Linked DNA regions of Homo sapiens: region 1 is reported to be linked to region 2. The links are microRNA targets in miRTarBase. Many come from high-throughput screens and were not tested one by one. Region 2 holds a microRNA gene; the other region holds the end of a gene's coding sequence.

Region 1 (3,000 bases), not on the chromosome of region 2:
GTAGATAATACATTCGGAGTTTACAGGGAATGTATGTATTGATCTTCTCAAAGAAATCTTACAAAAAATCTTGAGCAGCAGATATTTTTAGCCTCATTTGATAGAAGTGAAAATCAAGGCCCTGCATGGTTAAGTGATTTACTAAAATAAAAGTCGCTTGGCTAGTGTAGAGCCATGCTGTGAATCAGTTCCTTTCCCTTTTGGTCTAGGACTCCCTCCTCTGAGTCCTGCTGTTTCCTCCAGTCTCACTGCACACCACTGCCTCATGCTTCCTGGGGCCTCCAGCAGCTCCACTAATGGAGGAGAGGCAGTAGCCTCCGACACAGAACGCATGGACCTCCTACTACTGTGTGTGAGGAACAGTCACTACCCACTGGCCAGCCACCCAGCCAACAGGTCTCTCCTCTTGGGCCCTGATTTCAGAGTCCTCTTTCTCACTAGAGACTCAATGACAGAAGAGAGGCTGGGACTTGGTTGGGCATGCTGTGGTTGCTGAGGGATGAGGGGGAGGAGAGAGGTAGGAGCTGGAGATGAAGAGGCTGCTAGAAGCAGCAGGAAGCCTGCCCTTCTGCCCTCTCCCCTCCCTGCCCCTGTGTGAGTCTTTTGGGAGGGTGCTGGGAGGTGCCCCCCGTCCCACCTTTTTCCTGTGCTCTAGGTGGGCTAAGTGCCTCCCTAGAGGACTCCATGGCTGAGAGGCTCCTGGGCAGATGGGGTCAAGGCTGGGCCAGCCCAGATGAAGCCTATGGGAGTCAGGACCCTCTCCACTCTCCCTCTCCACTCCCCTTCCTGTTCTCACCTGGCTGTGGCTGGCCCTGTGTGGGGTGGGTACACTGGAAAACAAGAAGGTTGGAGTTGGTCTAGGACATTGGTTTTAAATGACAGTTCTGTGAACTGGTCCAAGGAGTTCTGTTATTAAAGTGATATATGGTCTTGGTCCAGTTTTCTCTGTCTCCTCTCTCTCACTCGCACAAAGACAGACAGACAGACAGACAGACACAAACACATATTACAGGGTAGAATTACAATTTTCCTTCTATCTTCTATACATATTGAAGCTTTGGTGCTGACTCCTGTTCATCTACTTGAGAATTTTGGTTTGTGCTTATTTGTTTTGCCCAGGCTGGAGTGCAGTGGCACCATCTCTGCTCACTGCAGCCTCGATGTTGTGGGCTCAGTGCCTGCCACCTCAACCTCTCTGGTAGCTGGGACTACAGGTGCATGCCACCACACACGGCTAATTCTTCTTTTGTATCTTTTGTAGAAATGGGGTTTGTTTAATTCTTTAAATTTGTTAAATCTATATGTTGGCTGGGCGCGGTGGCTCACCCCTGTAATCCCAGCACTTTGGGAGGCCGAGGCCGGCAGATCACGAGGTCAGGAGATCGAGACCATCCTGGCTAACACAGTGAAACCCCATCTGTACTAAAAATACAAAAAATTAGCCAGGCATGGTGGCGGGCGCCTTGTAGTCCCAGCTACTCGGGAGGCTGAGGCAGGAGAATGGCGTGAACCTGGGAGGCAGAGATGGCAGTGAGCCGAGCCGCACTCCAGCCTGGGTGACAGAGTGAGACTCTGTCTCAAAAAAAAAAAAAAAAAAATCTACATGTCATGATCTGCAATGAAAAGCCTTAGCCATCCAGGTGCTCTGAGATCTTGAGTCTGAGAAGCACTTAAGTCAATGCTCTCTTGGGAAGGTCTGGTTTCCCTGCAAGGCCCATCTCTCCTTCTCTCTCCCCTTTTTTTTTTTTTTTTTTTTTTTTTGAGACGAAGTCTTGCTCTGTCACTCAGGCCGGAGTGCAGTGGTGCCATCTTGGCTCACTGCAACCTCTGCCTCCCGGGTTCAGGCAATTCTCCTGCCTCAGCCTCCCGAGCAGCGGGGATTACAGGCATACTGCAGCCACCATGCCTGGTTAATTTTTTGTATTTTTAGTACAGACGGGATTTCACCACGTTGGCCAGGCTGGTCTCGAACTCCTGACCTCAGGTGATCCATCTGCCTCGCCCTCCCAAAGTGCTGGTATTACAGGTGTGAGCCACCGCACCTGGACCCATCTCTCCTTCTTAGCTCTTGTTTTGGAACTGGGCCTTTGACTTGGCCTCTCTTTTTGAGTTTTATGCCCAGTTAGCATTTCCTTGGGTAAGCCTCTCCCCAACTCTCTCCTCTCTAGCAGTTAAAATGTGACTGGCATCTTCTTTCTAAAAACTGCAGTGAATTTTTTATGGTGCTTACCCAAGGAAATGCAACTAGTGTTTAGCAATAACAGAACTTTGTGAGTTTATCAGCATATTTTTTGAGGAGTTGTACAAATGATTACTCATTTCTAGAGGGTCTGCTCCCTTTACATGAAGTGCACTAGAAAATGAAGGTTTCAATTTACTGCCAGTTTATTAACCAGGGAAGTAGTTGCTGGGAGTCTGCTGTCAAACTGTAGAAGCAACGTGGGAGAAGTTCTGCTGAATGGCAAAATAGCCTCGCCCTGTGTCCCTGGAGGTCAGACCTTCAGCCTCTACCCTGGGATCAACATTTACTGCCCAGCTCCCTTAAGTCCCTGCCTCAGGAGGCACTGATGGGGTAGTAGATCCCCCTGGGCAGGGATAAGTTAACAGCAAATCCAGCAGCTGTGATCTTTTTTGTGTTTCTGATGTCAATCATAATCATTTGCATATTTAAAGGGAAGTTTAAAAAAATTACAGCCATCAAGGTCTTTCAATACTCAGTAACATTTGAATAGTGTTTTACAGTTTAGAAAACATGCCCATATGTGGGAGCTCACAAATCTATGTGGTGCAGATGTTATTATTATTGTCCTCATTTTCCAGATAAGAAAATTAATTCAGAGAGATTAAGTGACTCCCCCAAGACCACCCAGCTGGTAAGCACTAGAGCCAGGATGTCAACCGTGGGTCTTTTTACTCTAAATCCACATTACTGTCATGCACATGAATGAATGAGATGGTCCAGTATTGCACAGAAGAATAGAATTGGAAGGTACTTGCTCA
Region 2 (5,940 bases):
ATCATCCCACTGACCTCTCCTGAGATTTGATGTAGTTCTCGGCCCAGGGAAGTCCTTTTCTCACCAAGGACCTCTGTGCTAGGCCTACTTGCATCACTGTCCTTGGCCTGTTCTTGGTCATGTTCACCCACTGGCCAGTACTGACAGGTCTGAGTCTTGGGAAGTAGGCAGCCCGTCTGTTGCCACCTCCATCTCCCCTGAGCTCAGGGACAACTCTGCAGCCACCTTTTCATCCACTGTCAAATCTCAGATTCCCGTGTTTGTGGCCCCTGCTCTATGTTCCTCTCCAGATTCTGTGTTCTCTGCCCTTTCCCAGTGGCTGTATGCGAAAAATGAGCTGTTCACCTTACACATAGCTACTTTCGTGTCTCCAGATTTGTGAGTTTATCAAGGCATGTTCTCCCTCCTCTCTGTTTTCAGTTAGAACCTTTTCAAGCCAGTAGTCCAGAAATGCCAGTTCCAACTCTCTCATGTTTCTGTGACCAGCTCCCCACTCCCCAGGTTTCCCTCTCTTCCAGGCATTAGGAAGAGAAGGCGTGCCTGCCCCTCCTGTGATCCCATCTCAGAGGCCAGGCTGGCCCCTCCTACCCTGGGGAGGAGCTGCCCAGCTTGCTATCTTGACAGCCAGTTCCCAGCTCTAGGAGCTTCTCTAAAGGACTTTAGTTTGCACACTTGCCATAAGTTATGCTCTTTCCCCCAAATCTGAATTCCTTTAGACACTGGGTTAAAAAAAAAAATGTTTCTACAGCAAAATTTAAAGCCAGGTCTTCCCTTCCCACCAATCTTTAACAATCACCAATCACTAAGTCTTGTCCCAGTTTCCTTGAGGTTTAAATGGGACATTTTTTCCACCAGAGGTTTTGACCCCCAGCAAGAATTCTGGCAGTTTATAGCCCCTTGGCGTGAGTGGGTCCCCCCAACCCCTTCTGTTCTGTCCCTTCTTCCCAGTCCCTCCCCTGCTTCCCTTCTCCCCTATCCTCTGCACTAAACTGTAACGAGCAGTAGGCCTCTGAAAGCCTGGAACTGCCATCCCCCCCAATCAAAAGACAGCAGCTTTGCCCTTTCAGAGGAAGGTACCTAACCAGGCATCAAGCATCTCCTTGAATTTTCCTAATCAAATTGTAGACAGGCATCACCTTCCCCCTTCTCTTTCCTGCCCAGCACACACCCTCTCAGTAGCAGAGGCTTAGTCTCCACCTCCCCACTGAGCACTGTTTTTGCCTCCCTTGAAGCAGCAGCTGCTATGGAGAGAGCCCAGCCTTGCAGTCTAGACCTGGACTCCAAGCCCAGCCTTGCCACTCACAGTGGCAGCTTTGTGGGTCTGTTTCCTCCCTTGCAAAATGATTCCATATAAAACAGATTCTGGGTCTGATCACCATGACTGCATGCCACTAGCCTGCCTCATCCTCTTATCCCTCCTCCTTTTCTATAGCACCAGCCGGCCACGGGCCATGGCTATCCTTGGAACAGAGGGTCGAGGCTCCTTCTCCTGCCCTAAAACCAAGACTGATGGGAGCCCCAAGGTAACTTGTCATATAATGGTAAAGTTACTGATGCTAAATTACTTTCCCACGGCCTGAGGTCATTGACCCTGAGTGATGTACCGAGGTCACTGATCCCAGACTGACACCATTAAAGTCAGGGTCCAAGGGACTTCCACCCTACTGATTCGAGGCTGGTGAGCCCCCAAACCTTGCCCCCTTTTTTGTTTCTTCAGAGCACTAGCTCTCCGGTAACCACCTACCACCTGCAGCGGGCACTGCCTGGGGGCATCATCCTCATGGAACTGGCATTCCAGGTAAGCAGGAGGAGCACTGAGTGGAGACAGCCAGACCCACCTGTCTCTCGCCTTCCTGATCTCATCTTCACCTTCCCTCCAGGGCTGTTACTTCTGTGTCAAACAGTTTGCCCTGGAATGTTCCCGAATCCCAATGGGGCAGGCTGTCAACTCACAGGTATGTGAATGAGCTGCGGGCACAGTCAGTGCACCCCAGTGTGCTGTGGGCAGCATGGCTCCATGTCCCATTTGCTGGGCAGTAGAGTAATGCAGTAGGCGGGCTGGCCCAGTGATTGATTCACTGCTATGGCCTGGCTAGGTCAGTGCTCATTCTGGTGCCATGACTGCACTCACTACAAGGCTGACCCCATCGGTCATCCAAAGCGTGTTCAGCTGTAGCCCTGAGGCAGCACAGTGCCTGGTCTGGCCTGTAGTCATCTAGAGTCTGTGGCAGACCCTGATGGAATCTGGGATAGAGCAAAATGGCCCAGTTTCTGAAAATGGCCCTAGTTTCATGGAGATAGTTACAATACAGTATGAAAAAGGGAGGCTAGAATGGGGAGGCCTTCCCACAGAAACCATTCTGGCAGAGGGCGTTCCACTAGGCCACAGCAGCAGGGGAAATCTTGTGCTTCTTCCCACGGAAGGAGGGAAATGTGTTTTGGGCAGCCAGTGCAGCCATACCTTAACCCTGTCTCCTGCTGCTGCCTCCCCAGCTGTCCATGCTGTTCACAGAGGAGTGTGACAAGGTGCGGGACCTGATGCACGTGCACTCGTTCAGCTATGACTTCCATCTGCGCCTCGTGCATCAGCACGTGCTAGGTGCCCATCTGGTGCTGCGGCACGGCTACCACCTCACCACCTTTCTGCGACACTTCCTGGCCCACCACCCTGACGGACCCCACTTTGGCCGCAATCACATTTACCAAGGTCAGTGCCCAAGGGCAAGCCAGTGAACCCAAAAAAGAACAGGCCACAGGTGCCTCCAGGTCAGGGCTGGTGGGACCACCTCCCTGGACAAGTGGTCCCATGTTGTTAATCATCTCATGTCACACATACCACGTCCCCATGTTTCTGTCCTGTGTCTGTTTCTTACCAGAGTTTGGACCCCATGTCACATGTCCCCTGCCCTCTGAGTCACTTCTGTCCCATCTCAGTGTTCCACAGGAATGCAGGAGCTCCTAAGGAAAGCAGACCCACTCTGCCTGCCAGTCAGAGCCTTAAAGACTCCCATCCCTGTGCCCCACCAGACCAGTGTGTCTGTCCTAGGCTTAGTGTCTGCTGTCTCCTGTTACTTATCCCTCAGGGACATTGGAGCTCCCCACACCACTCATTGCTGCCCACCAGCTATACAACTACGTGGCTGATCACGCCAGCTCTTACCACATGAAGCCATTGCGAATGGCCCGGCCAGGGGGCCCAGAACACAACGAGTATGCCCTGGTGTCGGCATGGCACAGGTAAGGCTGAGAGGGGCATCCAGCATGCACGCTGCAGGAGCTGGGGTTGGGACATACTTGCAGTAGGGAGACCAATGTTTTCTTGGGCAGGGGTGAGGTTTGTTTTATTAGAACCCCAGAGTTGACATCTCCCCAACCCGTCCTGCACAGTTCTGGCTCCTACCTGGACTCTGAGGGACTTCGACACCAGGATGACTTTGATGTGTCTCTGCTTGTCTGTCACTGTGCTGCACCCTTTGAGGAGCAAGGAGAGGCTGAGCGGCACGTTCTGCGGTCAGCAGATCCCCTACCTTGAACATGCCCATTTCCCAGCCTGCCCCACCCTGCCCTGTGTGTCTCTTGCTACAACCACCACTCTCCTGCCCTGCTCCCCACCCCAGGCTACAGTTCTTCGTGGTGCTCACCAGCCAGCGAGAGCTCTTCCCCAGGCTCACTGCTGACATGCGCCGCTTCCGGAAGCCACCCAGACTGCCCCCTGAGCCAGAGGCTCCTGGGAGTTCAGCTGGCAGCCCTGGGGAGGCCTCAGGGCTTATTCTAGCGCCTGGACCGGCTCCTCTGTTCCCACCACTGGCTGCAGAGGTGGGCATGGCACGAGCACGGCTGGCTCAGCTGGTGCGGCTGGCTGGAGGGCACTGCCGTCGGGACACCCTTTGGAAGCGCCTCTTCTTGCTGGAGCCACCGGGGCCTGATCGACTGCGGCTAGGGGGGCGCCTGGCCCTGGCAGAGCTGGAGGAACTCCTAGAAGCAGTCCATGCCAAATCCATTGGGGACATCGACCCCCAGCTGGTAAGGAACTGTGGGCTCCCGAAAGAGCTGGGATAGGTGCCAGGAATTCCACTGGCAGCCAGGGCAGAGGGCACAGGAATCTGAGGTGACTGGCACAGAAGACTCAGGCCTGTGGCTCCTCCCTCAGGACTGCTTCCTATCCATGACGGTCTCCTGGTACCAGAGCCTGATCAAAGTTCTCCTAAGCCGCTTCCCCCAGAGCTGTCGCCATTTCCAAAGCCCAGACTTGGGAACTCAGTACCTGGTAAGTCCCCTTGAGCTTCCTCTGAAAAGGGAAACACAGCAGAAATCCTCACCAAACAGATGTGCCCCTCAGCCTGACCAAACAAGCTCTGCTCTGGAGGGAGGCCTAGACAGAACGGGACTACACAGATACATGTAAAACCCTTCCAGTACCGGGCATCGAGCTACAGCATGTGATTCTCTGAGCAGCTCTGCCCTCAAAGACTCACCAAGAATACAAGCCTTGGCTTGAGATCCTGAGGGCCAGGCTCTGGAACTGACAACCCAAGGAGCTGTCAGAACTTTGTCAGTAGGCTGGAGCCCCAGAAAGGACCCCTTGGACTTTGAAGCCTTGTTACTTAAAGTGTGGTCCACAGACCAGCAGCCGCAGCACCTGGGAGCTTGCTGAAATGCAGGCTCTCCGGCCACATTTCAGACTGTTGACTCGGGATCTGCAGGTTGACAGTCTCCCCAGGTGATTTGTGTGCACACTGAGGCGTGAAAGCACTGCTGTAAAGGACAGGTAGAGAGAACTGTGGTGGTGGACACGAGCACAGGGCATTAAGGAGCCCACAGAGATGGGCCCAGCCAGAGCTGAGGTTCAAGAGAGGAGGCATTACAAGAGAAGACTTCAAGTGAGAAAGTAGGAGGTGGAGCCAGGTGAGGGGTCCTGCAGCACAGTGCTTGTGCAGAGGATTCATTTCAGGGTGCAGGAAGGGTCTCCCAGAGAAGCCAAGGTCAGTTAGGATGAGGCTGCAGTAGTGTCGGCGGTTGTGAATGGAGGCAGGTGCTCCTGCGGGTGGTGGGAAGGCTGGAGCAGGAGTGGGTTTTGGGGAAGGGTGACAAGCCCAGCTTGGGGCAAGCTGAGTCTGGGGTCCATAGGCCCTTCACTGTCTGCAAGGTCTGTGGGCATCAGGGATTCGAGCTCAGGAGAGTCCTAGGCAGCAGCTCTGTGAACAGGCGGTAACTGAAGCCTTGGGAGAGCAAATCATCCCGGGATGGATCACCAAGCAGAGCGTTAGGGAGCAGATGGACATAAGGGGACGACAAGACAATCCCAGGGGTGGTCAGAGAGGAGTCCCAGGACAGGAGGCAAGGAGGTTGTGCCAGGGGTACAGCACTCTCTGTTGATTGGCTTCAGTGTGCCAGGCTCTGTGTGGGGCCTCCAGGATCAACTGTTACCCCTCATTCTGATGCAGCTCAGACAGGCTGACCAGCAAGCCAGCGAGGATGAGGACTGAGGCTCAATTTGGAGACACGGTCCTATGTGACCTCAGGGTGCAGGCGGGGTGAGGTGTGGAGATGGAAGTAGGCCTCTCCTCATCCTCCCTTCACCTCAGGATGCCCTGTGGGAGGGTCTGTAGGGTCTGTGTCCCCTCCTCATCTTTCACTGCAGGTTGTGCTGAATCAGAAGTTCACTGACTGCTTTGTGCTAGTGTTTCTGGACTCCCACTTAGGAAAGACGGTAAGAACGAGTGGGGGGCTTTGTGTCAGCCTCATGGGAGGCCGTACCCCAAATGCTCCACCTCGGAGCCTGCTGAGGTTGGGGTGCCCACCCTTTCTGAGCCCTGCCTCCTATCCCCACCCATGCCCTCCTCTCACCAGTGCATCCCCACCGTGTTCCCCACAGTCTCTGACAGTGGTTTTCCGAGAGCCCTTCCCAGTACAGCCCCAGGACAGCGAGAGCCCCCCTGC

What was found. Region 2 holds the annotated microRNA hsa-miR-6735-5p (CAGGGCAGAGGGCACAGGAAUCUGA, at 4,083-4,107, shown strand). A microRNA usually pairs through its seed, bases 2 to 8, with sites in the 3' UTR of a target mRNA and lowers its output. Matches are read on the target gene's strand: a 7mer-m8 pairs with bases 2 to 8, a 7mer-A1 pairs with bases 2 to 7 and ends in A, and an 8mer does both.
Region 1: the mRNA of TMPRSS5 is a reported target of hsa-miR-6735-5p. Seed matches in the 3' UTR shown: 7mer-m8 at 561-567 and 7mer-m8 at 569-575.

What each region holds. Positions count from the first base shown.
Region 1 is chr11:113,685,484-113,688,483 of GRCh38, reverse strand. TMPRSS5 (transmembrane serine protease 5) reads left to right here. Exons shown (of 13, transcript NM_030770.4): 13 at 210-934. The coding sequence ends at 224. It overlaps LOC107984390 (a long non-coding RNA gene), which reads left to right and starts at 1,974. Exons shown (of 3, transcript XR_001748391.2): 1 at 1,974-3,000.
Region 2 is chr1:43,444,462-43,450,401 of GRCh38, forward strand. It overlaps MIR6735 (microRNA 6735), which reads left to right and starts at 4,078; the gene lies at 4,078-4,150. SZT2 (SZT2 subunit of KICSTOR complex) reads left to right here. Exons shown (of 72, transcript NM_001365999.1): 63 at 1,433-1,523; 64 at 1,718-1,798; 65 at 1,881-1,955; 66 at 2,494-2,707; 67 at 3,084-3,237; 68 at 3,388-3,510; 69 at 3,618-4,023; 70 at 4,151-4,267; 71 at 5,642-5,710; 72 at 5,876-5,940. It overlaps SZT2-AS1 (SZT2 antisense RNA 1), which reads right to left and starts at 4,183. Exons shown (of 2, transcript NR_046744.1): 1 at 3,642-4,183; 2 at 3,315-3,471.